Homo sapiens: one gene and its partners. The protein of the gene in region 3 purifies or fractionates together with the protein of the main gene of each other region. This does not show direct contact. Each region holds a gene or a part of one and is shown on either strand. Other genes may lie near its edges.

Region 1 (4,660 bases), on a different chromosome or scaffold from region 3:
AGGCCAAGGTGGGTGGATCCATCGAACTCAGGAGTTCAAGACCAGCCTGGGCAACATGGCAAAACCCCATCTCTACAAAAAATATGAAAATTAGCCAGGCACGGTGGCGTACACCTATAGTCCCAGCTACTTGGGAGGCTGAGGCGGAAGGATTGCTTGATCCCGGGAGGCAGAGGTTGCAGTGAGCCAAGGTTGAGCCACTGCACTCCAGCCTGGGTGACAGAGCAAGACACTGTCTCAAAAAATAATAATAATAAAGAAATACATAAGTATTCTTGGCCAGGCATGGTGGCTCACGCCTGTAATCCCAGCACTTTGGGAGGCCAAAGTGGGTGGATCACCTGAGGTCAGGAATTTGAGACCAGCCTGTCCAACATGGTGAAACTCGTCTCTACAAAAAATACAAAAATTAGCTGGGCATGGTGGCACACGCCTGTAGTCCCAGCTACTCAGGAGGCTGAGGCAGGAGAATCGCTTGAACCTGGGAGGTGGAGGTTGCAGTGAGCTGAGATCACGCCACTGCACTCCAGCCTAGGCGACAGAGCAAGACTCCATCTCAAAAAGAAAAAGAAATGTAGAAGTACTCTTGTAAAGATGTTTGTATGGCAGGTATGTGCCCAGAATGTATTACTGAAAGCATGTTCAAAAAAATGTTTAACAGTATGTCAGGAACCTTTACCATCTTAAGATGTTTCTTTATTGAATAATTTCCTGCAATGAGTAGATACCAATTTTATGACCAGAAAAAAAAAACAATAAAACAATTTTTATTTGAAAACAAAGCATAGCAATGGGCCTGGTGCCCGAACTCTGAAAGCAAGAGAGTACAGACCTAAAAAAGAAAACAAACAAACAAACAAACAAAAAAACCATAGCATTATATATTCTGGGATCCAGAATGTTTCACTCAAATTCAGCAAGACAAAGCTGGAATGGGGCTAGAATAGGTCAGTGTGAAGTTTCCCTGATGTAACTTCAACACCTGTCAACTAAACAGGTTGACATGTTCAGGAAAGATATGTCTTTTCCTAGATGTCTTACCCATTCTGAGATCTAGTTCTTCTTTTGCACAGTCTCCGCAGGCTGGCAAATTCAGGCTTCAAACTCTTGGCCTGGTTCTACTTCCCTTTCTGTAGACTTTGGTTACCAAGAAAGGGAGATTCCCATGCACGAGACCCCTTGCCTTTTACTCTGAGTGATCCACGCAATTATCCTCTTTCTTCAATTGGGACCAAGTTGGCCATCTGTAGGATGCCACCAGAAGATAACATCCTAGTCAGTACTGAGGTCCCCATCTCTCCTTCTGCAGGATTTTAATCATTATTTTTGTAAGAGTTCTGGAAGTCTGCCTAATTGTGACCCTCACCACCACTACTATCTCTTCTCATGCCTTTAAATATTCTCCAAACCTAGTGAGTAGCACTATACGTACACGAACACACACAGCTGGCCTGCCAGAGATCACTAACTTAGACCCACTGCTTCTCAAAGGTGTCTATATGCCCAGTCCTGTCCCAGGAATTACAGAGGGGCTCAGTGAGTGAGTCAAACCCCTGCCCTGAGTGGCTCCTGGATGGGGAATCCCTGATCTGGGTGCTCTGAAGCCCACAGGTCTTGCCCAGGTGCAACTTATGCCCTATGAGAGCTTGGAAATAGGAAATTTTTAAAAGAGGACAAAAGGGGAACTAACATTTACCATATGCCCTTAGACACCAGGCATGACAGTAGGTGTTCACATACATACATACGCCACTGTGTTTGTAAGGTGCTGAGAGAAGATGGGACACTGAATCAAATAGAATACATAAGTGAAAGGGGACGCTCCCCCACCCCAATTACAACACTGCAGGGAGTCCTCGAAAGTCAGGAACTGCTCTTTGTTGGAGACTTATTTAATAATTAACAAAATTCTTCTGAGGTCCACTGAGCCCCAGAAAAGCAATGCAGCCCCTGGGCCTGAAGTCTGTCCACAAGTACATCCAAGTAGCAACCTTTGCCACCTGTTGTGCCCCAGACATTCTAGGTCAGTTCCAATAACCCAAGACTCCAACACTTATCATCTGCCCTTCCCCTCCCCTCTGGGACCAACACACTCAAGCCCAGGCATCCCCTTCATGGTTCCTCCCAGGCTTTGCTGGCCTTCTCAGCCCTCAGTACCCTGACAGCCCTCCCCATCCCAGCAAACCCCAGGCTGCCAGTCCTGTCCCAATCTCTCTCCCGGGCCTTGCAAACCTGAGACCCTCCTCACTCACTCACTCATTTATTCATTCATTCATTCACTGCCAAATATTTATTGACTAACTACTGAGGGATACAAAGCCCTGCTAACAGAAGAAAAACCTGAGGCTCGGGCACATTAGATGACTTACCCACAGTCACCTTGCTAGTTAGTGGCAAAACAGGTACCACGACCCATTATCTGGCCTCCTCACCAGTGCTTTTTTTTTTTTTTTTTTTTTTTGAGACGGAGTCTCGCTGTGTCGCCCAGGCTGGAGTGCAGTGGCGCGATCTCGGCTCACTGCAAGCTCCGCCTCCCGGGTTCACGCCATTCTCCTGCCTCAGCCTCCCGAGTAGCTGGGACTACAGGCGCCCGCCACCACGCCCGGCTAATTTTTTGTATTTTTAGTAGAGGCGGGGTTTCACTGTGTTAGCCAGGATGGTCTCGATCTCCTGACCTCATGATCCGCCCGCCTCTGCCTCCCAAAGTGCTGGGATTACAGGCGTAAGCCACCGCGCCCGGCCCACCAGTGCTTTTTCCCACACCACATCCACAATCTTTGGTCCACAGAGGCCCCGCTGTAATGGCAACGGGGAGAGGGTTGGGGCATCCCTTTCTCCCCAACTCCTCCGCTCAGCGCGCTCCACATTTCCAATCGTTATCGATGCTATCCCTAATTCCTCTTTTGAACCCACCTCAGGATCTCCCTTGCTTCTTCTAGAGGTGTTCTCCTTACTCCTGGGCCCTCCTGACCCCTAGACCCAACTGTGACCTCCCCTAGGCCCCCACTTTCCCCACTCAGAGCCCCCACCCAATTCAGGACACAAGGGGCCCATCTGAGGTTCTCCCTCACCATCTCCTCAGCCACACGCCCTGACTCCGGACTTCTGCTGCCGCCTCGGCGCCGCCAAGGCCCTAGTGTTGACGCGTTACCTTGGCAACCACTAGCCCGCGTTCTTCGGCTCAGGCCCCGCCCCCGGCCCCGCCCCTCCCACCTCCAGCGGGCAGTTGCCTTGTGCTGGTGGCTTAGGAACCGGAGCCCGTCGCTCCAACCGTTGCAGCTCCACGCTCCAGCCCAACCGCGGCTCTGAAGGATTGACCCGCCCTGGCGTGCCCTGCTCTCCACTTTGGCTTTGGCCAAACTTTTCGGTCAGAACCCGAACCTAAAGAACTTACTATGGGCCGAGGGGGTTCTAACTGTCAGCGGCCCCAGGAGCCTGGCCCAGGGTCACAGTTTTCCCCTGGGACTTCACCTAGGTTGCTATGATTACTCTTGCCCCATTGCCCAGGAGGCGCCAAGCCAACCCCTGATGAGTGTAGTCTGCAGAGAAGCCAGCAGGATCAGGACAAACCAGTTCCACAGCAGGAGAGAATCTGGTCGGGTCAACAAAGAACTTCCAGCCCTGAGGATGTCTATGCAGTCTCAAGAGCAGTTTCTTAAATTGCGGGCCTCAAATCTGCAGCTAAGAATCACCTGGGAGAGTTTATTAAAAATGGAGGCCCTACATTAGAATAAGTCAAAAGCTAAGGAACTGACTTTGGGGAGCTTGTCTTTTAACACTTCCTAGCTGGTATGTATTGTTCTAGAAAGTACATAGGGGTTTTGTCATTTTTTCCAATTTGGTTTGGCCTCTCTACCTCCCAACTTGCAGGGCTGGCACTGAGCTCACTTTGGTAGGCTGCATGCTCCAAGCCTCACGAAGCTGTCCCACCAGACCAAGGACATTTGTCTTCCTCCAGTGCTGATTAGCTGATTAGCTAAGCTCTTGGTGTGACTCTGTGAGTCTCTGAGCTGCTTTCTCAAACCTCTCTCCAAACCCTCACAGCCAGTCTTTCTGAAGCTCTTACTCCAACTTGGGCACTGAAGGCTATTCACAAGCCCCGGGGGAATGGAAAGAGGGAGACAAGGTCACTTCTTGCTGCTTTTAAAAGGACTTACTCCAACAGGCTTCACATTCCTTCCCTAGATTTCCCAGCCTTTATCTCCTTTGGGATCAAGAGTACAAAATTGTGTCCCCTGCCCAGTCCCACCAAGTGTTGAAGGCTTAATCAGAGGGAGAAGGGAAGGCCTGAAGAGGAGGAGCACAGTCCCTGGGAGGCTTGGGACTGAGAGAAGGGGCTGTTTTGTTCGTGGGAACCTTCCTTACTAAGCCTTGGCATTAGAACCCCGTTCCCTGCAGCTCAGAAAGAAGGGAAGACAAGTAACCGGCCCACTGTGAATAAGGTGCTTCCTGTATTCACCCCATTCTCCCAGGCACATCTGCATGACATAGTTACTATCCGTGTAACCAAAGAGGAAACAAGCCAAGAAAAAACTGTCCAAATTGAAAATCTATTCTTTTCTCAGCCCAGGGTAACTCTCTGAAGAAAAGGTGCAAAGTTGAGGCAGAAAGGGCTGGGCGCGGTGGCTCATGCCTGTAATCCCAGCACTTTGGGAGGCCA
Region 2 (4,174 bases), on a different chromosome or scaffold from region 3:
CAGGCACGCACGCACACACGCACGCACACCAACCTGCAAAGGAAATAACGGGGCAGCCCTGCAGTGTGAAAAGCAATGGGATTTTGTGGGTTCCACCTCCTCACCTAAGCATCCCTGGTCTACGCTATGTCACGACCCTCTGCTGAACCACGTCAGGGTGAACCCCACACCGTGTCTGTGCGCCTCACCACGCCTACTGCCATGGGTGGCACTGGAACTAACCCGTGGACGATCCGACGTGCACCAGGAATAGAAACCAAGCTCTCGCAAAGACAGAGGAGCCAGTGTGTGCACTGCACAGGGTGACACGCCTCCTGTGCCCGAGCCACACGTAACACCTTCCAGGGAGGACCACACGGGGGGTTTTTAAAGGGCAACCCGCTGGGATACAGTTCTTTGTCTTTCCTAAGAAGATCATTGTACATCTGGTCATATGTGGTTTTGAAATCATAAACATTGGGCTTGTCGGGAGCTGGTCCTGGAAGCTTCACGTGAGTCCCTGTTCCAAAGGATCGGACGCTGAATCCCCGTTTGCTGAAAGACAAAAGGAGAGAAAGAATCACAGTCACACTAAGACACAAAATTCCAAAAGCAAGGGACAGCAAATGGGATAGAAACAAAATGAGTAATTTCATTGGCTCATAGTAGAGAATATGTCTTCAAATTTTTAATCTAGGCCGGGCATGGTGGCTCGCGCCTGTAATCCCAGCACTTTGGGAGGCCAAGGCAGGCGGATCATGAAGGCAGGCGGATCATGAAGGCAGGCGGATCATGAAGGCAGGAGATCAAGACCATCCTGGCTAACACGGTGAAAACCCGTCTCTACTAAAAATACAAAAAATTAGCCGGGCGCGGTGGCGGGCACCTGTAGTCCCAGCTACTCGGGAGGCTGAGGCAGGAGAATGGCGTGAACCCGGGAGGCGGAGCTTGCAGTGAGCAGAGATAGCACCACTGCACTCCAGCCTGGGCGACAGGCTGTAGCAAGTTACACAAAAGCAATCAAACCAGAACTGACCATCACAAAGCCACATCTGAACATCATAGCTTGTTTAAGGCTTTACTTTAAACTGAAAGGACTGACTGATGTGGACTTGGGGAAGATTTCATCAGAACATTTTGGCCATCGACCAACGTCCTGGCTTTGGAGGATCCAAGTTCACAGGATTCCTAAGGGACTCACAAAGGTCCAACTGCCCGCTCCACCACAGGAAACTCTGTCTCCCCCAGTTTCCCAACACCCCCACGATGTGGCTCCATGGGAACCGAGACCCAACACCCAAAGGAGTCCCACAGGCTCAGGGTTGCTGCAGGCAGAGAACAGATGCCGCGATGGGTCCGACGGTGCTTGTTCCTTGGACTTCCTAGTCACAGGTGAGGAAACTGACCAAATACTTTTCCTAATCAACTGGAGAAAAGAGCTGAACAGGAAACGTGTGTCATGTGCCACCAATGAGCTCTAGTTCACGCAAGGAGAAAGAGAGGTCGTCTCCAAACACTGATGGAGTGTGGTAAGACCAGAAAATTCTTCTGTCATCGCTGACAAGCACACTTAAGTTTGTCACAACAAGTTACATGTAAAAAAGTTACTTTGGCACCGAGTGCGGTGGCTCACACCTTCAATCCAGGCACTTTGGGAGGCCGAGACAAATGGATCACCTGAGGCTGGGAGTTTCAGACTAGCCTGGCCAGGAGGCGAAACCCCAGCTCCGTTTCTACTAAAAAAAAAAAAAAAATTAGCTGGGCATGGTGGTGCGTGCCTGTAATCCCAGCTACTTGGGAGGCTGAAGCATGAGAATCGCTTGAACCCAGCAGGCACAAGTTGCAGACATTGGAGATCTCACCACTGCACTCCAGCCTGGGCAAAAGAGCGAGACTCTGTCCCAAAAAAACAACAAAAAAAGTTACTTTGGTATAGAACATGTGTTCTTGTAAAGTCACAACTGATACTTATAATTACCTAAAAAATATAGACTTCTCAACCTAGCTTTATTTATAAATCACAAAAGGTTTGCATCTGAAGGAATCTGCCTGGCTCAGGGCGCAGGGCGCACATACACTTCCATTAACACTAAACTCCTCTTACAGGCCTGTCATTCTTGTTCAGAAAAGTGCTGCTGCTTCGCTCTTGAGCAAGAATGACACACAGACACGTGAGGAGTTCCATATTATTTTAAAAAAAGAAAAGTAAGGCCGGGTGCGGTGGCTCACGCCTGTAGTTCCAGCAATTTGGGAGGCCGAGGTGGGCAGATCATGAGGTCAGGAGATCAAGACCAGCCTGGCTAACATGGTGAAACCCCATCTCTACTAAAAATACAAAAAATTAGGCGGGCGAGGCGGCGGGCGCTTTTATAGTCCCAGCTACTCGGGAGGCTGAGGCAGGAGAATGACTTGAATCCGGGAGGCAGAGGTTGCAGTGAGCTGAGATCGCGCCACTGCACTCCAGCCTGGGCGACAAGAGCGAGACCCTGTCTCAAAAAAAAAAAAAAATTACTGAATGTTGAATGAGTAACAGTGTCACAAGAGAGGAAAAACTCAGGCAGAGGGGGCTGCTGGAGTGTAACCAGTCTCTATGCGGATAATGGGGCAACACCCAGCAAGTGAAAACTACCTGTGCCTTTCTCACAGACACTGGCTTCTAGAAACCCGCCCTACGGACATACACGTGCCTCTGCAACATGGCTGCCTGCAGGATGCCCACTGCCGGCCTTCCACAGCCACAAAAGAACAGACAAGTAGAATAATCCATCCATGGGGCAGGACAGGCCATGCGGCTCCACGCGCACCTCCGAAGATGAGTAGAGGAAGCAAAAGAGCCCAAGGGCACCCTGCTGCGCCACCACACACGTCACCCACACACACAGAGAAGATGTGCTCATCTAGTGTACGTGAAACACCTGAGTCCCCTGAGGCTGATGACAGCTGCGTCAGTCCTTACATCCCTAGATATTCCGAGCTACACAACCCGGCTCTCCAAACATCTACCACACACGGCCAGAAATGTGGCACAATAGCAGCGATTCATGACTACAAACCCGTGTTCACGGCACCCGGACTGTGAAATAAACGTGAAAATGCTAAAATTAAAATTCCTGACATTCAGTCATAACCACAGATCCTGACGGAAACATGAGGTTAAAGCAATAAAGTCAACTGTTGGTTGTGACTGAGAGGGTGACGGAGGCCCAGACACAAGGCATACCACAGGGAGCACACGTGAGAAACAACAAGCCTAAAATGACTTCCTTACCAATTCAGACAACATACAATAAAATATGTTCCGTCAAAGCACAAACAAGGGCCGGACGCGGTGGCTCACTTGAGGTCAGGAGTTCGACAACAGCCTGGCCAACATGGTGAAACCCTATCTCTACTAAAAATACAAAAATTAGTCATGGTGGCACACGCCTGTAATCCCAGCTATTCGGGAGGCTGAGGCAGGAGAATTGCGTGAACCCCGGAAGCGGAGGTTGCAGTGAGCCGAGATCGCGCCATTGCACTCCAGCCTGGGAAACAGAGCGATACTCTGTTTCAAAAAAAAAAAAAAAAATCGCACAAAGAAGCCCAGGATCAGCGTGATCACAGCAGCCAAAGGAGACAGCCTGCCTCCCAACACCAACAAGAACTCACCACCTGCTGGACGTTCCTTTAAGTTAGCCTATTTAAAAACAAAATGCAGTTTGTTTTTCCCCCAACAAAAGGTTCACGAATGGCAAAAAGGCTATTTAGCAACAGAAGCAGTATTTCTCCCAAACTGATGCAACCGACAGGGCAGCCAGCTTGCGACTCAACAGCGTTTCTTACATAAAAGCAAGGACAGCTTGGAAAACACTCCTGACACCAACAGGCTTCGCCTGAAGGGCCAACGCCTTTGTAAACTAATCTTCCAGACAAGTATTTGTCTGGTATGCCAAACAACTGTCTTTACAAGTACCAAAAATCTATCAGAGGGCTTGTAATCCCAGCACTTTGGGAGACCAAGCAGGTGGATCACTTCAGCTCAGGAGTTTGAGACCAGCCTGGCCAACATGACAAAACCCCGTCTCTACTTTAAAAAAAAAATAAAAAAATAAAAAAAGCCAGGCGTGGTGGTGCGCGCCTGTAATCCCAGTTACTCCGGAGGCTGAGGCTGGAGAATCGCTTGAACCCGGGAGGTGGAGGTCGCAGTGGGCCCCGT
Region 3 (3,500 bases):
GCCCGGCTGCCGGCAGTGCCAGGTGCAGCAGGCATCCTGCGGTATCTGCTGAAGGAAGGCAAGTAGCTCATGCTTCTCGGAGCTGTAGTTTCCTCACCTGTAGAATGGGCCACGGGAAGACTCACCGAGATCATGTAACCACAGGCTGGGCAGGAGGTGACACACTGAGTGCTCAGTGTTGGACTCAGAAGACTTCCTCCTCTGAAACTACTGTTCATACTAAAAAAACACTTACCCAGCACTGCCAAGTGCCAGGGGCTCAATGCCTTCTAACAACTCATTTAATCCTTATGACTCTCTGTGAAGTGGGCCTTAGTGTACCCATTTGATACACGAGGAAACTCAGGACAGAGAAAGCATGAAACGTTCCCAAGGTCCCACAGCTCCAGAGTGGAGAAGCCAGGATTGGACTGAGGTGGTCTGGCCCCCACCTCTCTCAACACCGGCCTATGCTGCTCTCTTTGCAAAACAGAAATCTGTAGGAAGATCAGCTGCCTGTCTAGCAATGGGGAGTCGCCGGTGAGAACAGGAGTAATCTGTCATGAAAACGGATCCTATTAACAGGATGGTGAGGCCAAACCATTTTGTTTCCCAGAAATGACAGCTGAAAGCACTGAAATGTCAGTCCAGAAACGAAGGCCTTTAGGAGATTTGTGACAAGCACTCAAGCCACAGTTTTGTTAAAACTCCCCAGGGAAGGTGAGCAGTGGCCATTGGTCACCAGCGTCTGGAGCCAGAAAGGAGACCTCCCGGGTCCTGAGGCTCCCAGGCCAGGCCTCGGCTTGGATGTCGGCTCGGCTCTTCCACACACATCGCCCCATCTCGGCCCCACGACAACCCTCCAAAGCCAGTGTGACTTTTAAGGACACCAGGGTGAGAAATGAGCCGATGAGAGGGAGGGCGGGGACTGAGGCCAGGCGAGGCCAGTGGACCTCCTCTCCATACACACTGCTCAGCCTCACTGCGCCCCACCGTCTGCCCTTCTGCCATGAGATGTGTTTTCTATTCTTGAAAGACGGGCTGGAAGCACGTCCCCATGTGCTGGGGGAGGTTCTAGCTGTGCAGCCATGGGTGGGAGGCCTTCCTGAGACACCCACTGTCACCCATGGCACATGGGCGGCCCGAGGAAGCTGGTAAGGCTGCATGTGGGGCCATGTGGGACGCTGTGGCAGCCTTGCCCTAGGAAGGGTATGGGGAGGCATTTATAGTTTCTTTAAGAAAAAAATGACAATAACTACAACATCAGGTACAGGGCCTGGAGGGAGTTCCTGCCGGCGAGGGGCCCCGAGCTTGAGTCTGCCCCTACATGACCCCATGGGGGCGCCCTGCTAATCCTATCCTTCCCACTGAAGAAGCTATGCAAACTTCCCAAATGGTGACAAAAGGTTTTACCCTTCCCCATGGAAAAGCAGCTGTAAATGCAAGTAAATGTATAAAATGACTCCCCCTAAAAAGGAGGAATCGACATTTTTCAAAGCTAAATGCACAGATGTTTGGGGTGGATGAATCCATGGGGGTTGTCCCTGCCTTGCAGGAGGTTGGGTGGCATCCCTGGCCTCCGGCCGCTCCCTGCCGGACTCACCCCCAGCCTGAGCTCTCCTGACATTTCCACGAGAACCCACCCCTAGATGAGAACCGCTCCTGTGGGACACAGGTTTCAAACTCTTTTCTTGACGTGACTAAATTATTTTCTGATCTTACACAGGAGCCCAGTAAGTACAACGGGGACCAGAGGGGCAGCTCTGGTTGGTGTGCCCGCGCCCCCTCTTCGGAGGACATTCTGCGGGGAGGTGCGTCTTACCCTCCCATCCAACTGGCCTTCACTTGGCAGGAGGCCTGAGGGGCACCCCGCTGATCCGGGGTGAGCTGGCCCTGCACAGGCTTGGGGTATCAGGTCAGCCTCCAACCACTAATGGGGGCTTGGGTTCAGCACCAGAGACAGCCTGGCCTCATGGGACCTTCAGAAAAGGGGTGGGGGGGGTGCATCTCCGGGTTGGCTGAGCATATCAGGTGTTCCATCCCAGCAGTGACTGCCCTTCATCAGGCAACCGCCCTGTGGAAGACCACACTGCTTTCTGCCATTACTGGAAGGCTTGAAAACTGCGGGCTCTGACAGTGAAGATGTTTTTTAGTTCTGTAAATTCTACAAACCCAATTTCTATCCTTCTTAGAGAACAAACAGGAACAACAAAACCCCCTGAGGTGGAGGCAGAGGGCTGGGCAGAGGGAAGGCCAGGTGTGTACGCACATTTCTAAGACCAGGATGTAGCTGGTGGGGGTCTCAAAGGTGTCGAGGAGGCCGACAAGCAGGGGGTGCTGGAGGCTCTGCAGGATGCCAAGCTCATGGGTGACCTGGTCGCGCTTCATCAACTTCTTGTTCACAAACTTAGTGGCCACTGCTCGCTTGGTTCCTTTCTGATCACATTTCTTAACGACAGAGAATCTGCCCCTGTAAAATATGTCAGGGGGACCATTTGCAGAGGCTGCTGAGGTCTGGCACCGAGAAAGACTCTGTTATCCTAAATGGACTGGCTGTGTGGTGGCCCAGCCCTGTCCAGAGGCCCTGCTCTCCCGGCCACTCCACGGAGGGGCTGTGGTGCCATGGCTGTCCCCCAAATCTGCCCTTGTCCCCGCAGCCACGCGGTTCTGCTGGTCCTTCCTCCCAGGCAGCCTTGGTCTCCTCACGTCGGTGGCTGCTTTCCCAGCACTGCGTGTGGTGGAAGTGACAGAGGAAGACCTCTGAGCCTTGGCCTTGCCGGGCGACTCCCTTCTGCTTCCCACGACGAGCAGAAGCTGGGATGGCTGCTCACGCCTCCCGTCAGCCACCTTTCCCTGCACGTTTGAAAGGTGCGTCTGCTGTGGTCACTGCCTCAGCCTCGCCCCTGTGGGGGTGTGTGGGGCAGGCACGAGGACCCTGGAGCTGCCCCTGATGACCCACTCCTGGGGACTGGCCACAACTCAACGCGATCTGGACGAGGCCTTGGACCTCAGGTGGGGGCCTGGGCTGGGGGCCTGAGGTGGGTGAGTGCATTCTGCACATGTGAGGACCAGAGATGCGCCTGTGGCGGGCAGACTGTGTGGTTAAAGGCCACGGTTTTGCTACTTCTGTCACTCGGAGGCGGGGGCTATTCGTCCCCTTGAATCAGGGCTGCCTGGGGCTGGCTCTGGCCCACAGGATGTGGAGGACGTTGGTCGTTCTGAGGCTGGGCCTTCAGAGGCCTTGACGCTCCTGCTCCTGCTGTTCTGGGATGCCACTGCCCTCACGTGGGGGAGCCCAGGGTGAAAGTCGATGTGGAAAGAGGCCAGTGTCCCAGACAACGCCTCTGACACGCATGGGGCATGGTGCACCAGCTGACCAGGCCAGGAGAGGCCAACAGAATAATGGTCCCATCTGCCCACTGCACTGGAAGAAGGCACATGTCACCACTGTCCTAAGACAGCATGTGCTGGTGTGACTTTTTATGCAGCCACAGACAGCTGACAGAGACAGCAACAGGAGC
Region 4 (4,174 bases), on a different chromosome or scaffold from region 3:
CATTGGCCAGGCTGGTCTCAAACTCCTGACCTGAAGTGATCTGCTTATCTCAGCCTCCCAAAGTGTTGGGATTACAGGCGTGAGCCACCACTCCCGGCCTTTCACTAAATTTGGAAGGAAGTTTGGAAGAGTCTGACATGAAATAGAAACCTGGAGGTGTACACAAAGTCCACTTTTGGGCCCATGGTGAGGAAGACTCTGGGAAGCTGGAAGTGTCCCCTCAGCTGCTGAGGACCAACGAAAGGCCAGATGACCACAGATCAGGGGCTCAGGGATCGTGGGGGCCTGTCCAGAGAAAAGCTGAAACTCTCTGGCAGATCCTGAACCAGGAATTCCCATCAAGATGTGGGACTGAGTTGCCTCTTACATGGGCTTCTCCTGGGAGGGAGCTCAGGGAACTGCTCCTGGAACCCCGTGCCTTGTAACTCAGGTGCCAGCACACGCTATTTGGAAGCTTGGTTTTCCCATTTGATAAATCAGGGGCATCTTCTTTTTTTTTTTTTTTTGAGGTGGAGTTTTGCTCTTGTTGCCCAGGCTGGAGTGCAATGGCGTGATCTTGGCTCACCGCAACCTCCGCCTCCCAGGTTCAAGCAATTCTCCTGCCTCGGCCTCCCTAGTAGCTGAGATTACAGGCATGCGCCACCAAGCCTGGCTAATTTTGTACTTTTAGTAGAGATGGGGTTTCTCCATGTTGGTCAGGCTGGTCTCGAACTCCTGACCTCATGTGATCCGCCCGCCTCAGCTTCCCAAAGTGCTGGGATTACAGGCATGAGCCACCGCGCCCAGCGGCATCTTCTTTTTTTTAATTTTAGAGACAGGGTCTAGCTCTGCCGTCCAGGCTAGAGTGCAGTGGTGCTATCACGACTCACTGCAGCCTTGTCCGTCTGAGCTCAAGTGATCCTCCTGCCTCAGCCTCTTAAGCAGCTGGGACTGTGTGCCAGCTGTGTGCCACTAAGCCTAGCTAATTTTTTGTAGAGATGGAGTCTTGCTATGTTGCCCAGGCTGGTCTCGGGCTCCAGGCCTCAAGCAATCCTCCTGCTTCGGCCTTCCAAAGTGCTGGGATTACAGGTGTGAGCCACCATGCCCAGCCTAGAGAAATCTTTTCATATTAGGGAAGGGAAGTATTGTAAATGGCTGCTGAATGCCCCATAGAATGAATTCTCCACAATTATACAACCATGCCTTCTTTTGCCTGGTTTTCAAATTTCTCTATTGGTAAACATTTTTGCATCTGATAATCTCATTAAGTTCCCAGGCTGGGCACAATGGCTCACATCTGTAATCCCAACACTCCTGGAGGCTGAGGCAGGAGGATTCCTTGAGGCCAAGAGTTCAGGACCAGTTTAGGAAACATAGCAAGACCCCAGCTCTAAAAAAAGTTTTTTAAACTAGCCAGGTGTGGTGGCACATGTCCGTAATGCCAGCTACTCAGGAGGTTGGGGCAGGAGGATAGCTTGAGCCCAGGAATTGGAGGCTGCAGTGAGCTCCAACTCACGGCAGATTGCAATGCCTGCACTCCAGCCTGGGTGACAGAGCAAGACCCTGTTTCTGAATCAAAACAAAACGAACAAACAAAAGATAAATTTCCAGAGAAGGGAATGATGGAGCAAAGAATGGCACTAAAGTGTATGCATGTCTGTGTGTTTAGAAAATCTGGAAGAAAGGATGCTTAAGTGTCGACAGTTGCATTCTTTGGGGGCATGGGCAACTGCTGTGAATGGTTTGCTGGCTGTTTTTTCACATTTCTGAATTTTTCATGTTTCTAAATTTAGAATGTTGTACTTTTTAATTTAAATTAATTAATTAATTACTTTTTTTTTTCTTGAGACGGAGTCTCGCTCTGTCGTCCAGGGTGGAGAGCAGTGGTGCAATCTCGGCTCACTGCAACCTCTGCCTCCTGGGTTCAAGCAATTCTCTGCCTCAGCCTCCCAAGTAGCTGGGATTACAGGTACCTGCCACCACACTCGGCTCATTTTTTTTTTTTTTTTTTTTTGAGATGGAGTTTCGTTCTTGTTGCCCAGGCTGGAGTGCAATGGCACAATCTCGGCTCACTGCAACCTCTGCCTCCCGGGTTCAAGCGATTCTCCTGCCTCAGCCTCCCGAGTAGCTGGGATTACAGGCATGCGCCACCATGCCCGGCTAATTTTTGTATTTTTAGTAGAGATGGGGTTTCTCCAAGTTGGTCAGGCTGGTCTTGAACTCTTGACCTCAGGTGATCCGCCCTCCTTGACCTCCCAAAGTGCTGTGATTACAGGCGTGAGCCACGGCACTCGGCCCCGGCTAATTTTTTGTATTTTTAGTAAAGATGAGGTTTCACCATCTTAGCCAGGCTGGTCTTGAACTCCTGACCTTGTGATCCACCCGGCTCGGCCTCTCAAATGCTGAGATTACAGGCATGAGCCACTGCGCCTGGCCTAATTTGTTTTTTTTTTTTTTTTTTTTTTTGAGACAGAGTCTCGCTCTGTTACCCAGGCTGGAATACAGTGGCGCAATCTTGGCTCACTACAACCTCCACCTCCCAGGTTCAAGTGATCCTCAAGCCTCAGCCTCCTTTGTAGCTGGGATTATGGGTGTGTGCCACCATGCCAGGCTAATTTTTGTATTTTTAAAAGAGACAGGGTTATGCCATGTTGGCCAGAATGGTCTCGAACTCTTGGCCTCAAGCAATCCACCTGCCTCGGCCTCCTAAAGTATGGAGATTACAGGTGTGAGCCGCTGCGCCAAGCAGTACTTTTTAATTTAAAAAAAAAAAAAAGTTTTATGGCAGCGCAGCGGCTCACACCTGTAATCCCAGCACTTTGGGAGGCCAAGACAGTGAATTGCTTGAGCTTAGAAGTTCAAGACCAGCCTGGGCAACATGGAGAAACCCCATCTCTACCAAAAATTTAAAAATTAGCTGGATGTGGTATTGTTCACCTATGGTCCCAGCTACTCAGGAGGCTGAGGTGGGAGGATCATTTGAGCCCAGGAGGCATAGGTTGCAGTGAGCTGAGATCTCGCCACTGCACTCCAGCCTGGGCAACAGAGGAAGACCCTGTTTCAAACAAAACAAAACAAAAAATACACAACATTTTATCTTGAAATAATTTGAGATGTGTGATAGATGTTTTGTTTTTGAAACCAGGAAGATAGTATTATGGATGGGGGTTGGGGGGATAGAGAAAGGGGATGGGGCAGGGGCAGGCAGGAGATCCTACCAGGATCTCTGGGCAGTGTCTATGCTGATCTGGTGGGGATGGTGATGGAGCCCCATGGGAGGGAGCTCACAGGCCTCCTGGAGGAAGAACAGGCCAGGCTGGCTGTGACTTGCGCTTCACATATACAGTTTTCCCTGAGTGGATGCTAGTATCCCCTCCGCTTGACAGGTGGGAAAACTGAGGCACGACCTGTGAGCAGGCTTCCTAGGGAGGGACACTGGAGGAGACCATGACATGCCTGACAGGGGATGCTGCTCGCCGAGTCAGTTCAGAGCTGCCCTGTGGGTTCACTGAGGGTGCGAGCATGGGGTGCGGGGAAGGAGGTGGGGAGGGTGGGATGGTGGTTGCCTGGACTGGCCTGTGGCAGGGAACAACCACCCAGGAGGGAGCTGCTCACCCACCTTGGCCTCCAGCACCTTCAGCCGCTCTGTCAGCTCTGACACTTTGCTGCAGTTGAGACAACCTGCGGGGAGGGAGGAAGCTGGGGCCAGGGCCAAGGGTCCTAGGCTTCCCCTCAGAACCCTTCAGTCTCTGGGGGTTGGGATGGAGGAAAGCGTCAGATACCTGATGACCCCAACCCACGAGGGACCTTAGGCTTGGGAAGGGCTATAGGATCACAGTGGGTCCAGGGGGACCTCACCCTATGGGTTCCTTTTGGCACTGGAGCCTCCAGAGTGGCCTGCTTCTCCGGCAGCAGGACCAGGGACCTGACCCCTGGCAGCCTCTGTGTCCAAAATGACCCTTTTCCCAGAAGCCAAGAAATGGCAATGGGGCGGGGGCCATGGATGAGGCTGAGGACTTCTCCAGCGACCCCAGCCAGCCTCATGGGCTAAGAGTTTAGAGCTCAGACAAGCCTGGGTCTGAGCCTCGACACTTACTGTCCCGCGTGACTTGTCCTCTCTGGAAAGATCCTGTTGCTTCCTGCCTGGGCAGGGCTGGGGCCAGGGCTTGCCGGCTTTGGGGACCCACCCAGCGCA
Region 5 (4,174 bases), on a different chromosome or scaffold from region 3:
AACAAGGAGGCCGCATGAGCCGTCAGGCATCGGGCCTTCGGGGCGCTTGGCCAGCCCAGCCTCCAGAGCTCCGATTCCGTCCCAGTGGAAACAAAGATTTCCTTGAGTAGAGCAGCTGTCCTCAGCTCACCTCCCAGCTGGAAGGCCTCGGGCGGCAGGCTTGCCCCTGCTTTGAGAACCGTGTGAGAGAGAAGAGGCACCAACAGCTGTCCTGAGCCCACTCTGCAGGTGGCCTGGCCCGCCGCCCACTTCCCTAGCACCAGCAGCGGGGACGCCCTCGGGGACCGACCGCTCCCAAAACAGAGGGAGGAAAGAACCTGGGAATTCTATGGCCTGGTGCCCCGTCGCACCCAGCCCTTTACAAGCAGCACAAACGTATTTGGTTGTCTGGGGCCTGGACAAGCCCCAGCATTTTCCAGGCAGCTCCTGAGGAAGCCTGGCATAAGACAGGGCTTTATCCCCAGCCTGGGGCTTCTAGGTCAGGAATATAATCAGCACAGCATCCCACTGGCCCTCCTCCTGCTGGCCCCGCCCCGACTGCTTGGCTACGATCACCCACGACCCTCGTGGCACCCAACACCCTTCTGCATTCCTCTTTCGTGCGCACTGTAAGCATCTGCCAATGTCGACTGCCCTCTTCTTCAGCCATGGGGTTTGGCCCACACTGTCTCCCAGTGTTTAGCCTTCCTGATCAACCCCCAAAGACAGGTGCTCTCCCAGGCTGTTCCTCAGCTCTCAGCTCCTCTTGCTCCTAATTCTACATTTATTTATTTATTTATTTAGGAGACAGGGTCTCCTGTCACCCAGGCTGGAGTGCAGTGGTACAGTCATGGCTCACTGCAGCTTCAAACCCTTGGACCCAAGTGATCCTCCCATCTCAGCCTCCCGGGTAGCTGGAACTACAAGCACATGCCACCACATCCAGCTAATTAAAAAAAAAAATTTTTTTTTTTTAGAGACAGGATCTCACTATGTTTCCCAGGCTGGTCTCAAGCAATCCTCCAGCCTTGGCCTCCCAAAGCGGGTAGGATTATCAGCGTGAAGCCACCGTGCCTGACCTCTTTCTGCCTGTCCTGGTCCACACCACATCTTCAGCTGACAATGCCCCATTCCATGTCCCCACCACTGACCTGGCTGCTGAGACCTGGGCTTGCAAATGTTTAAGTCAGTACAGTGGCTACGAGCCACATGGAGCTATGTCAGTTAAACAAAATGAAACATCCAGTTCTCGGCCAAGGAGCCACATTTTAAGTGCTCACGTGACTAGCAGCTGCCATACTAGACAGCACAGCTCTTAGCACCTTGCACCACAGCTGAAGGTTCTGCTGGGCAGCGCTGGTCTAGACCCACATATGCAATCATCTGCTGAACACCTCCTCTTTGCTCTGCGCTAAGACTTTTTTTTTTTTTTTTTTTTGAGACAGAGTTTTGCTCTTGTCACCCAGGCAGGAGTACAATGGTACAATCTTGGCTCGCTGCAACCTCCGCCTCCTGGGTTCAAGCAATTCTCCTGCCTCAGCCTCCAAAGTAGCTGGGATTACAGGTGCCCACCACCACGCCCAGCTAATTTTTGTATTTTTAGTAGAGATGGGGTTTTGCCATGTTTGTCAGGCTGGTCTCGAACTCCTAACCTCAAAGCGATCCACCCGCCTCGGCCTCCTAAAGTGCTGGGATTACAGGTGTGAGCCACCGCACCAGGCTGCTCTGCCCTAAGGCTTTTAAGCCCCCAATTAACTCATATCCTTCTCCCCCGTCCTTACCACATTAGCTTCTCCTCCTGTGGCTTGCAGCTTGGTGAAAGCTATGCATGCCATCACGCGGGGTCCCGGGCCAGAAGCCTGCAAGCCACTTGGATGCCACCTTCCTTGCACCCGCCACATCTCATCCATCGCCAGCCCCCTGCAGGTCTCCTCTCCTCTCCATCACTTCTTCCCCAGCCCTGGCTGGTTTTCTGCCTCCCATCTGTCTCCCACGCTGCTTCCAGAGGCAGCTCTGAAAAACGCAAATCTGAATGCCACCCCTGGCTCCAAGGGCTTCCTATGCCAGTAAAGGAGGGAGTAAGCCCTGAGCGTTTCCATCTGGCCCTTCCCCACCCCGCGTGAGTCCCTTTCAGTCCAGCTCCCTGGAGCTACTCAGTCCCTAACAGATCACACTTGAGGTCTCGTCCTCTGGCACCCGCTCTTTCCTCTGTCTGGATGCCTGTTTCTCCTCCACCTTCTCCATCCGTGTATTCTCCAGAGCTCAGCCTGAGGCCACCTCCTCCGGGAAGTTGCCCAGACCTGGGTGTGCTGTAGGTGCCCCTCCCCCAGCATCCGGACGAACCGGTCTACAGTCCTTGGTTTCCTCGTCCTGTCCCCAAGACTCCAAGCCCCTGGGAAATGGGAGCCCCATCTCATTTCTCAGGCATCACCAGCATCCGGTGTCTAACTCTCAACAGGGCTCCAATGCTCTCCTCACCTTCAATCAATCCCAAGTACAGAGCCATCGTCCAAAGATGACATGCCTCAGCCACAAGCCTGTCCAAATCTCTCTCTAATTCCAGCTGGGGACACAGAGATCCAAGGTACATCACTGTCACCAGAGTGCTGACTCCTGGTGTGGCCATGTAGCCATCTTCCCTAGAAACGCTCCTCTTATCTGCACTCAGAAAGTCTATTGCTTCAAAGAGATGAAACCACTGCCTCCATTCACCAAGGTTACAAACCACCTACATGTCCAGGAAGACAGTCTAATGAAATACATGGCTGGGTGCAGTGGCTCACGCCTGTAATCCCAGCACTTTGGGAGGCTGAGGCAGGCAGATCACCTGAGGTCAGGAGTTCAAGACCAGCCTGGCCGACATGGTGAAACTTTGTCTCTACTAAAAATACAAAATTTAGCCAGGCATGGCACATGCCTGTAATCCCAGCTACTCGGGAGGCTGAGGCAGGAGAATTGCTTGAACCTGGGAGGCGAGGATGCAGTGAGGTGAAATAGCACCACTGCACTCCAGCCTGGGTGACAGAGTGAAACTCCATCTCAAAAAAAGAAAACAAAAAATTTACAGTGCATCCATCCATATGATGGAAACTAGAAAAACAAGGTGGTTGATGAGAGTGGTGAAATCAGCAATAGGGAGGGATGGGGATTGTGGTAAACCAGTAAACGCGTTCTTTCTAAAGACATTTAAAGAAATAATATGGGCTGGGCACGGTGGCTCACGCCTGTAATCCCATCACTTTGGGAGGCCGAGGCAGGCAGATCACGAGGTCAGGAGATGGAGACCATCCTGGCTAACATGGTGAAACCCCGTCTCTACTAAAAATACAAAAAATTAGCCGGGCGTGGTGGCAGACACCTGTAGTCCCAGCTACTTGGGAGGCTGAGGCAGGAGAATGGCATGAACCTGTCAGGTGGAGCTTGCAGTGAGCCAAGATCATGCCACTGCACTCCAGCCTGGGCGACAGTGCAAGACTCCATCTCAAAAAAAAAAAAAAAGAAAAGAAAAGAAATAATATGGAGGGACTGGGGAGCAGAATCAGCCAGCAGCACCAGTTAGGCGTCTCTGTAAATAGGTGAATATTTACTGACATGGAAAGATGTTTGGGCCGGGCACAGTAGCTCACGCCTGTAATCCCAGCACTCTGGGAGGCCGAGGCAGGCGGATCGCTTGAGGTCAGGAGTTCAATATCATCCTGACCAACATGGTAAAACCCCGTCTCTACTAAAAAGTACAAAAATTAGCTGGGTGTGGTGGCGTGTGCCTAAAATCCCAGCTAGTCGGAAGGCTGAGGCAGGAGAATCGCTTGAACCCAGGAGATGGAGATTGCAGTGAGCTGAGATCACGCCACTGCCCTCCAGCCCGGACAACATAGCAAGACTCTGTCTCAAAAAAGAAAAAGAAAAGAAAAGAAAAAGAAAGGAAGGAAGGAAAAGAGAGAGAGAAAGAGAGGAAAGAAAGAAAAAGAAAGAAAGAAGAAAGAAAGAAAGAAAGAAAGAAAGAAAGAAAGAAAGAAAGAAAAAGAAAGAAAGAAAGAAAGAAAGAAAAGAAAGAAAGAAGAAAGAGAGAGAAAGTTTGTAAAGCAGTAATGAGTTTTGAAAATGCAGAATGAAAACATGCAGACCCAAACACACGCACATACAGGCACACACATACACATACACACACACACACACACACACACACAAAACCACA
Region 6 (4,895 bases), on a different chromosome or scaffold from region 3:
AATTTGCTCCTCAACACTCAACATAAAATGGAGAAACAAAGAAGATAAGTATTGTATTAATATTACCCTCACATAAATATTAGATTTTTTGAAGGAGGTCAGATTTTATCTGACGGTTCTCATGTGCTTTAACATATAAGAGATTTTAACAACTTTTCTAAGAATTTATATACACATATGTACACGCAAGTTTTTATACTTAAATCCTGTATATGAAGAATTTTTTTTCTATGAGTCTATGGTTTCATAACTTTAAAAAGCAGAAAAATTTTAATTTGCCCTACACTAACAAAAGAAAAAATTTGATTATTCACATTTATTCCCTTAAGCTAATAAGGGAATATATTTTAATGTTATATATGGAGATTAATATTACTTTAGGTCAGCAGGAGAACCCAGGGATGTATAATCACAATGCCGTCTTCAGGGCTGGTTAAAGTTTGAATTACTTTATCAGAAGAACATGATAGAAAATATATTTTCTTTTTTTTTTTTTTTTTTTTTTTTGCTTTCTAACATCTTTTACTTATTGACCTTTTGAAACATCCAAAAATTAGTAATATTATAATCTGTGTCACAATCATATAACAGTTAAGAAAAAACATAAAATGAAGGCCTAGAAGGATCTTTGTTACTCATCTAGAATTATTTGGTATAACAGTATTTTCCAATGGAGGAAGACTATTGGATTTCAGGCATAAAACAATGCAGAAAAACATCTCAAGGCATCACAGGGAGAGGGAGATAACTTCTGACTCTAGTTTCCCGTATTTCAGGCCAGGAAGAGCAAGGGGAGAAAATTATTTGCCCATGGGAACAAGTAATCATGCTCTAAAGGACAATTTCATTCGAACCCATTCGTGCATCCTTTTCATGCAATTCGAACCCATTCATTGCATCCTTTTCATGCAAAATTTCAAAGATAAAGCAACATAAAATATGGGGCCAAAGAAAAGGGAGAAGGTCTTCAAGGATAATTTGTGCCTTTAAGTTTTTACTGGTACAACAGTCCTTCAGCCTGGAGGTACTCAAAGACGAATCATGAAAAACAAAAAAAAACTTTATTTCGAACAGTTTCAGTGATATATGTGTGTGCTACAGCAAAGGCTGGTTGTGGCAAAGTTTCATTTCAAACTGCATGATGTGGGCTAGGCAAGGTGGCTCACGCCTGTAATCCCGGCACTTTGTGAGGCCGAGGTGGGCTGATCACCCTGAGGTCAGGAGAGACTGGCCTGGCCAACATGCCGAAACCCCGTCTCTACTAATACAAAAATTAGCCCCGTGTGGTGGCACACACCTGTAATCTCAGCTACTTGGGGGGCTGAGGCAGGAGAATCGCTTGAACCTGGGAGGCAGAGATTGCAGATCATGCCACTACATGCCAGCCTAGGTGACAAAGCCAGACTCAAAAACAAAACAAAATAAAACAAACAAAAAAACTGCATAATGTATAATTTTGACATTATGTGGGAATGCTTAACTTCTGCCAAAATGTAGATTCAATCCAACATTATGCCAATTTTTATACTAATTGTAGTCCCTAAGTTTTCATAACCAAAAAAAAAAAGAGAGAATAACCTTACCGTTACCTACTAAGGTAACAAACTGTGAAATCAATTCCCCAATATCGCTTTGAAAATAAACCCCTTGGTTGTTAAAGAGAAATTGCAACTTCCAGCTCCATCCGAATGTATTATTTAACCGGTATTCTTCAGTCATCATCTACTGTTGGCTTGATTGTCACTCCTCTTCTTATCTGACCCCAACCAATTAAACGCCAGTGTTTTTCAACTCTTCGGCTAAGGGCAATTTTTTCTCCTACCTCTGTGCACACTGGATTGGTCAAAACAATTTTGCCCAAATCGGCCTTGACAGCACTAACTCTCCCTCCTGTCGACAGGGATCCTATGTTCACCATGAGCACTTCATTCTTAGACAGCTTTTGAACCTTTGCTGCTTTCTTGTCTCCTTCAGTGCGTACACCTAGAAGCCGTCTAAGCAGGAAATAGGAAATTTCCAATTCTGTGAATATCTCAGGTAAAGCTCCGACTGCACCAAGTATTTGCCCCACCATTCTGTCAGCCCGGCACAAAGTGGGGTCAATTTTTGTTCCAACTCCAATAAGACCGCCTGGAGCAGCATATTGCAGATCATTATGCTCCGCAAAAAGTGAAACAATTTTGGAAAAGATTGATTTACACATGAGTTTTCCTTCACTATCTTTGGAAACAATACCAGGTCTTACTTCTGTCTCCTGGCCCACCTTTAATACTCCTTTTAGGATACTACCACCAGCTACACCTCCCTTAAGGTCATCAACTTCACAGCCAGGTTTGTTGACATCAAAAGATCTAATAACAATAAGCCGGGGCTCTGAAGTAAAGTCTCTTGGGGGTACTGGAATTTTCTTTACTATGTACTCACAAACAACTTCAATATTGTATTTCAGCTGAGCCGAAATTGGAATAATGGGAGCTCCCTCTGCTACTGTACCTTGGACAAACGCAAGGATCTGCTCGTATTGTTCTTTAGCCTGCCTTTCTTTTACCAAATCAATTTTATTTTGTAGAATCAAAATATGCTTCAGTTTCATGATCTCTATAGCAGCCAGGTGTTCAGATGTCTGAGGCTGAGGGCAAGATTCATTACCAGCTATCAACAGAAGAGCTGCATCCATCACTGCTGCACCGTTCAGCATAGTAGCCATCAAAATATCGTGGCCAGGACAGTCAACAAAGGAAACATGTCTGACTAATCTGAAGTTCCCTTTGGTTCCTGGAATGTCTGTAGGAAACTCATCAGGCATACTGCTCCCACAAGATCGATAACATTCTGGCCGAGGGCAACTTGGGTCATCAAGTTGATAAATCTTAGCATTAGCATATCCAAGCTTGATTGTAATATTTCTTTCTAGTTCATTTTTGAACCTGACGGTGTGAACTCCAGAAATAGCTTTGACGACTGTGGATTTCCCATGAGCTACATGACCAATTGTACCTATATTAATTGTGGCTTGTCTGCTGATAACTTCGTGTGAAAGTGGCGTCAACTTGGTAACATCCAAGGTGGTGAGATCCTGACGCGAAAGGTGCGGCTGCCCCAGAGTCACCCCAGCTTCTCCGCCCGCCATGTTGCCAAAAGAGGAAGAAAGTCACCCCGGCTGCCGCCTGATCGTCTGCAGGGGTCCTAGTGCGGGGCGGGGATGCGGAGGCCGGAAGGTCGACTAGGGTCTCAGGATGGCCGGTGCAGCAGCGGCCTCAGTGCTTGGACTTCTCTCTGCTTGAATCTGCACAGTGCCTGTCGGTAGGCTTACTGGAAAACACGGTGCAAAGTTGCTGGAGCTATTCGTCGCAGACTTGGTAGATATTTGTGCAGGCAATACTGAGGGCAGCCACCCAAACCCCCGCCCCCTGGGCCCATGCGAGGCGGGTCGAAAATATATTTTCAGTTGACCACAGATAAATACTTAAAAAATTAATGGACCATTGTAATCTATTTATATGAAAATGGATCTTGTATATACAGCCTGCTATTACATTTCTAAGAAGACACAAAACCAGCAACACACTGAATAATTCTACACTAAATATTTTTCTTCTTTAAGAAGATTAATTATTAATATATTTATTTTTTGTTCGAAACAAATAGCTATGTCGTGGTTTATATTATAATTTTCATTTCTTCAAATTATGTTGGAGTGATGACCATTAATAGATGCTATATTGGAGATTTATTACAATAGCTTTATTGAGGTATAGTTTATATACAAAAAAACTGTGCATTTTTAACGTATACAATTTGATGAGTTTGGACATATGCATACATTCGTAATACCATCACCCAATGAAGATAGTAGGCATGTTTATCATCTACAAAGTTTTTCTTGAGTACCTTTATTTTGGGAGCAGAGGGCAAGTAAGACACTTGACATGAGATCTACCCTCCTAGCAGATTTTAAAGTGATCAACGTATTGTTGCTAACTATACGTACTATGTGGTACAGTATATCTCTAGAACTTATTCGTCTTTCGTAACTGAAACTTAACCAATTGAAAGTGAGTCCCTGGTAACCACCATTCTCTGTTCCTATGAATTTGACTACTTTAGATAACTCATATAGTATAATCATAAAGCATTTGTTCTTCTGTGACTGGCTTATTTTATTTAGCTTAATGTCCTCAAGGGTCATTCATGTTGTCATGAATGGCAGAATATTCTTTCTTTAAGGCTGAAGAATATTCCATCATATGTACATACTACATTTTCTTTATCTGTTCATCTGTCAGTGTACATTTAGGTTGTTTAAATATTATTTATTCTTGATAATCCTACCATTGATGTGGGAGTGCAGATATCTCTTCAAGATACTAATTTTAATTCTTTTGGATATACTGTATACCCAGAAGTGATATTATTGGGTTATATGGGTAGTTTTACTCTTAATTTTTGAGGAAGCTCTATACACCTTTTTCATAGTGCATTCTTATCAACAATGTGCTAGGGTTCCAATTTCTTCACATTCTTACCAACATATATATATATATATATATATATATATATATATATATATATATATCTTCATATATATGTATATGGATATATTCGTTTTAAGGAAGAGGGTAATAAATGAAAGTGAGAGGATGGCTCATCTCCTTCTTCTGGGTATATATGAATGAATATATGGATATGTGAATGTATCCATATATATATATATATATATATATATGTAAAATAGTCATCCTAACAGGTGTTAGGTAGCATCTTAGAATATTTCCCTAATGATTAGTGATGTTGAGCATTTTTTTATATACCCACTGGCCACATGCATGTCTTTTGTGGAGAAATGTCTATTCAAGTCCTTCATCCATTTTTTAAAATTGGGCTATTTTTTGTTT
Region 7 (3,797 bases), on a different chromosome or scaffold from region 3:
AATGAAGACCACTGCCTATGGCAGCATTTCCTCTTCTTGGCAGAGGCAAAGTAAAGAAATAAATCCCAAAAGTCACTCAACAATTCTCAATATATTCCATTTTGAGTTGCTATTTAAGTTGAAATGAAAAATTGTACATTTATGTGCTAAAGAACAGAACAATTATTACAATATAGACATGTACAGATTACTTGTTAGATGAATTTAAACAAAACAAGTTAGTTGAAACTTAACTGAAAATTTTTCCCCTTTCAGTCTTTGTGGTGGGAACGACGGGCTTTTCCACTGAAGGGTGAAGACATGGCAGCCTTATTATGTCAAGATGAAAAAAAGGATCAGGTTGAAAGGTCAAGCACAGCTTTCCATGGTGAAATCTTCGGTACCAGTGTACCAGAGAATGGCCACCATCCAAAAAAGCAGTCAGATGGAATGGAAGAATACAAAACCTTTGGTCTAGGACTTACTAATGTTAAAAAAAATAGGTGACAGGGAACAGGTTAAGAAAACTATGTAAATGTAGGAAAGATGGGAGGAAATAAAGCCCTGTTCTGGATCCCCCATCCCCTCCAGAATAAGAGCATGTTCTGCATGTATTAATCTTTTATGCTGTTTATGAAACAGGCAAGATAAGTCTGTTTTTCCTTCTGGAACCATAAGGGTAACCAGATTTTCATCTACAGACAAGTGGTAGTCATTTGTGTTTATCATGCAACTTACTTACAAACACCAAGATATTAATTGCTGCAACTTGATGTCAAATCACATTACTGGGTAATTTTTAAGACTATGTACCCACACCATACATACATACATATATATATACACATACATACAAACCTGTGTGCCAAGTGACAGCTATTTTTTTATATACATGGTAATTCATTAAAATTGCCTTAGTAATATATTAGAATATACAAATATGTGTGTATAAAATAAACATACACACACACACACACCCCTATGTAGTTTTTAAAACACTGGCAATGACCCACTCCCCTTGGAAATGCATGTATGAACTACCCTATGAAATGTAAGCTGCAGAATAGATAAAACACAGGTTTCCACTAATAAAAGACATCTGAACGTCCTGAATATAGAGACAGAAGTTTTTTGTTGTTGTTGTTGTTGTTTTAACATGTTTAACCAACAGAAGTTATTTACAGAAATTCATATATCCAGGCAACACAAAACTCCTTTATTCAAAATCACTGCTATCTTTGGGACTAAACACAGGCTACTTTCTGTTTACTCCTAACAAAATAAAGCAAGCAAATTTGAGTCAAATATTGGTGCACTTTAATACTATCACATCTTTGAAAACTCAATTTGAGTTTTACCAATTAATGTGTCTCATGAAGAGAAGACACCAGTTTTAAAATGAGCCACAAACAGTAAAGCCCTATCAGTATAAAATTTGAAAAAAAAAAAAAAGATGATTGTATTTCTAGATTAGCAAGAAATTAGTTAATTCTGGCTGATTTCTATTTCTAGCTAATTTGGTCATTCTTTGCCATAGCTTACTCTATTCAAATAAACATATATTCTTGCTTGCATCCTAGATTGGAAATTAAAATTTTTCAAAGAACAAAGCTTCAATATTGGATACTGAAGAGTATACATGAAAGAAAATTCCTTTTGAAGCTATTAAACCATTTTTTTCCTATGTGAAAGTTGAGGACAATTTATATAACTCACTTTTTGTCATGTAAAAAAGGTTACTCAAGTTGTACTACCCACATAACTGAAAATATTGGCCATTTGGCCTTATCTGTGAGATTTGACACTAAGTTTTTGTTAGAGATTGGAAATTATACTAGTCCTTTTAAGGGGTAAAAAATTCAATTCAATACTGACAAACTTTTGCTTGTAGTTTTACTGTACATTTATTTTTAAAGAAAAAGAAAACAAAAGCCAGACAAACCCAAGTTGTCCAGGCAAATAAACTCAAATCTTTGTCACGTCTGATATTATAATCTTCTATGTAAGTTTTTTAATTAAAGTTATTTCTATATGCCGTGTGTTGCTTGTTATTAAATGCGACGTATTCATGGCACAAAGCTTTCCCAAGCTGAATAAAAACAAACATTAACAAATTTTTACCTTGTAATGCAGGAAGAAACCCAAGCAAGCTCTAGTCTGTGCTTAAGTGTTAGCATTCTTATTTTTTGAACCTTATTTCTCAAAACTTATAGTAGCCTCAAGAAGTCTATTGATATTGGTCATGTTTATTTCTTGCCATATTTATAACACAGCAAGAGTATTTACAGGAATGAAGTAGCTGACACATATTTTTAGACTCTGTATAATTCAGAACAGTTATAAATATTTAGTTTATGGATTGACTCTGTATCCTGTCATCTTTTCGCCTACCTGATCTTTCTTGGAATAAAATAATATATCCTTGGGGTCAAGATCCATAGTTCCAGAATTTTCTCAGCCATCTGGTTCTGCTACAGCGTAAAATTAGACTGGAAATAAGACAACGTTAAGTAAAAAGCTTCTTTTACCTAACCCACCTCCCAAGGGCTCCATTTGTAAAAGTACAGACCAGAAATTCTACCACTTCCCAGATCCTTTCCAGGGTACCACCCTATTAAGCATTAATTTCTTCATTTTTTAAATGGGGACAAAAATATCTGCTTTATTATTACCACTTACTTATAGAGGTGATTTACAGATTTAATGAGAATATATCAAAGTACTTTATAACTCACAAAAATATAAACTTATATAATGCTGTTTACTTTGTGTTGAGCATATTCTAAATTCTGGGACTAGTACTGGAAACTTTACATATATAGTGTTAGCTCTTAATTCTCAACAGAACCCCACAGTTGCTATAATTACATTTAATGTATAAATGACTTTAGAGAAACACAAAAAAGATTGGGTGATTTGTTAAAGGTCCAGCTAGAAAGGGGCAGTCAGAATTCAACCCAATATTACCTCCAAACAGAGGTTTTACTTTTTCCTTTCTACTCAGAGCTAACACAACAGCATTATTTAACGTTCTTAAGAATGGTGGGGAGGAATCACTGAATAACCTGCTTTGACAAAACACCCTGATAAAATCTATGCTTGTATTTTAGAACCCCTGGGTTTCACACATTGTTTTTATAGTTTTCACACATCAAGTGTAAGGTGAAAAGTGATAGATTTTAAGAACCAAGAATATGGTATGCACCCCACCCAAACTTATAAACAAATCACAATAACATGAAATAGAAAAAAACCATAAAGACTTCCTTTGCTTTTGGAAAACAGCTGAGAAACAACAAAATTCTTTTCAGAAGTACAGACAAAATTTGTTTTTGTAGTGTAGCTAATATGCCCTCCTTAGACATTAAGACACTTTTCTGTTTGTAACCCTAATGCAGCCGTATTTTTACTTTATAAAAATCAAATCTCTCAATAAAAACAGTATCTTACTCACTAATCAATAAATTGCATCACTAAAAATGTAGTTATACACACCAATTTCTGACCTCTTAGAATATTCTGCACAATCAGTTTTAATCACTGGAATGAATAACTGCTCAAAAAAGCAGTACGGCTTCAATTGCATTGTGATTTGGTAGTCAATATTCCTGTTTTCCAGTAAAAGGGAGATTTCATGAACAGGAACACTGGGCTCCTTATGGTTTCACCGATCAAGAGAACGTTTCTGAGCAGCTTCTGAGCAAACATTTCTTAATAGATTGATCACAGATCTGGGGTCTTCACTCCTCATAATAGCACTGCCAGACACAATCATGTTAGCTCCTGCCTGGAAGAAGTAAACAGTTAGGTTATGCCTC

Evidence for each region.
Region 1: the proteins of TRIO (region 3) and CFAP45 fractionate together in Homo sapiens (co-fractionation; one large-scale study listed by BioGRID). This does not show direct contact.
Region 2: the proteins of TRIO (region 3) and SSU72 fractionate together in Homo sapiens (co-fractionation; one large-scale study listed by BioGRID). This does not show direct contact.
Region 4: the proteins of TRIO (region 3) and EMID1 purify together in Homo sapiens (co-immunoprecipitation; one large-scale study listed by IntAct). This does not show direct contact.
Region 5: the proteins of TRIO (region 3) and C1QTNF1 purify together in Homo sapiens (co-immunoprecipitation; one large-scale study listed by IntAct). This does not show direct contact.
Region 6: the proteins of TRIO (region 3) and EIF2S3B purify together in Homo sapiens (affinity purification with mass spectrometry, with the first as the bait; one large-scale study listed by BioGRID). This does not show direct contact.
Region 7: the proteins of TRIO (region 3) and RPE fractionate together in Homo sapiens (co-fractionation; one large-scale study listed by BioGRID). This does not show direct contact.

The regions. Positions count from the first base shown.
Region 1 is NC_000001.11:159,897,025-159,901,684, forward strand, and holds the start of CFAP45 (cilia- and flagella-associated protein 45), read right to left. Parts: upstream 3,142-4,660; 5' UTR 3,075-3,141; coding exon 3,072-3,074; intron 3,056-3,071; exon of another isoform or gene 2,955-3,055; intron 1-2,954. UniProt on the Homo sapiens protein: Microtubule inner protein (MIP) part of the dynein-decorated doublet microtubules (DMTs) in cilia axoneme, which is required for motile cilia beating.
Region 2 is NC_000001.11:1,564,383-1,568,556, forward strand, and holds part of SSU72 (RNA polymerase II subunit A C-terminal domain phosphatase SSU72), read right to left. Parts: intron 535-4,174; coding exon 391-534; intron 1-390. UniProt on the Homo sapiens protein: Protein phosphatase that catalyzes the dephosphorylation of the C-terminal domain of RNA polymerase II. Plays a role in RNA processing and termination. Plays a role in pre-mRNA polyadenylation via its interaction with SYMPK.
Region 3 is NC_000005.10:14,503,342-14,506,841, reverse strand, and holds part of TRIO (triple functional domain protein), read right to left. Parts: intron 2,450-3,500; coding exon 2,249-2,449; intron 1-2,248. UniProt on the Homo sapiens protein: Guanine nucleotide exchange factor (GEF) for RHOA and RAC1 GTPases. Involved in coordinating actin remodeling, which is necessary for cell migration and growth. Plays a key role in the regulation of neurite outgrowth and lamellipodia formation.
Region 4 is NC_000022.11:29,225,976-29,230,149, reverse strand, and holds part of EMID1 (EMI domain-containing protein 1 isoform 1 precursor), read right to left. Parts: intron 3,661-4,174; coding exon 3,599-3,660; intron 1-3,598.
Region 5 is NC_000017.11:79,030,312-79,034,485, reverse strand, and holds part of C1QTNF1 (complement C1q tumor necrosis factor-related protein 1 isoform 1 precursor), read right to left. Parts: intron 188-4,174; exon of another isoform or gene 1-187.
Region 6 is NC_000012.12:10,504,138-10,509,032, reverse strand, and holds EIF2S3B (eukaryotic translation initiation factor 2 subunit 3B), read right to left. Parts: upstream 3,144-4,895; 5' UTR 3,131-3,143; coding exon 1,712-3,130; 3' UTR 508-1,711; downstream 1-507. UniProt on the Homo sapiens protein: Member of the eIF2 complex that functions in the early steps of protein synthesis by forming a ternary complex with GTP and initiator tRNA.
Region 7 is NC_000002.12:210,019,638-210,023,434, reverse strand, and holds the end of RPE (ribulose-phosphate 3-epimerase), read right to left. Parts: intron 3,767-3,797; coding exon 3,644-3,766; 3' UTR 1,175-3,643; downstream 1-1,174. Other genes in the region: KANSL1L (KAT8 regulatory NSL complex subunit 1-like protein), read left to right, coding at 256-486. UniProt on the Homo sapiens protein: Catalyzes the reversible epimerization of D-ribulose 5-phosphate to D-xylulose 5-phosphate.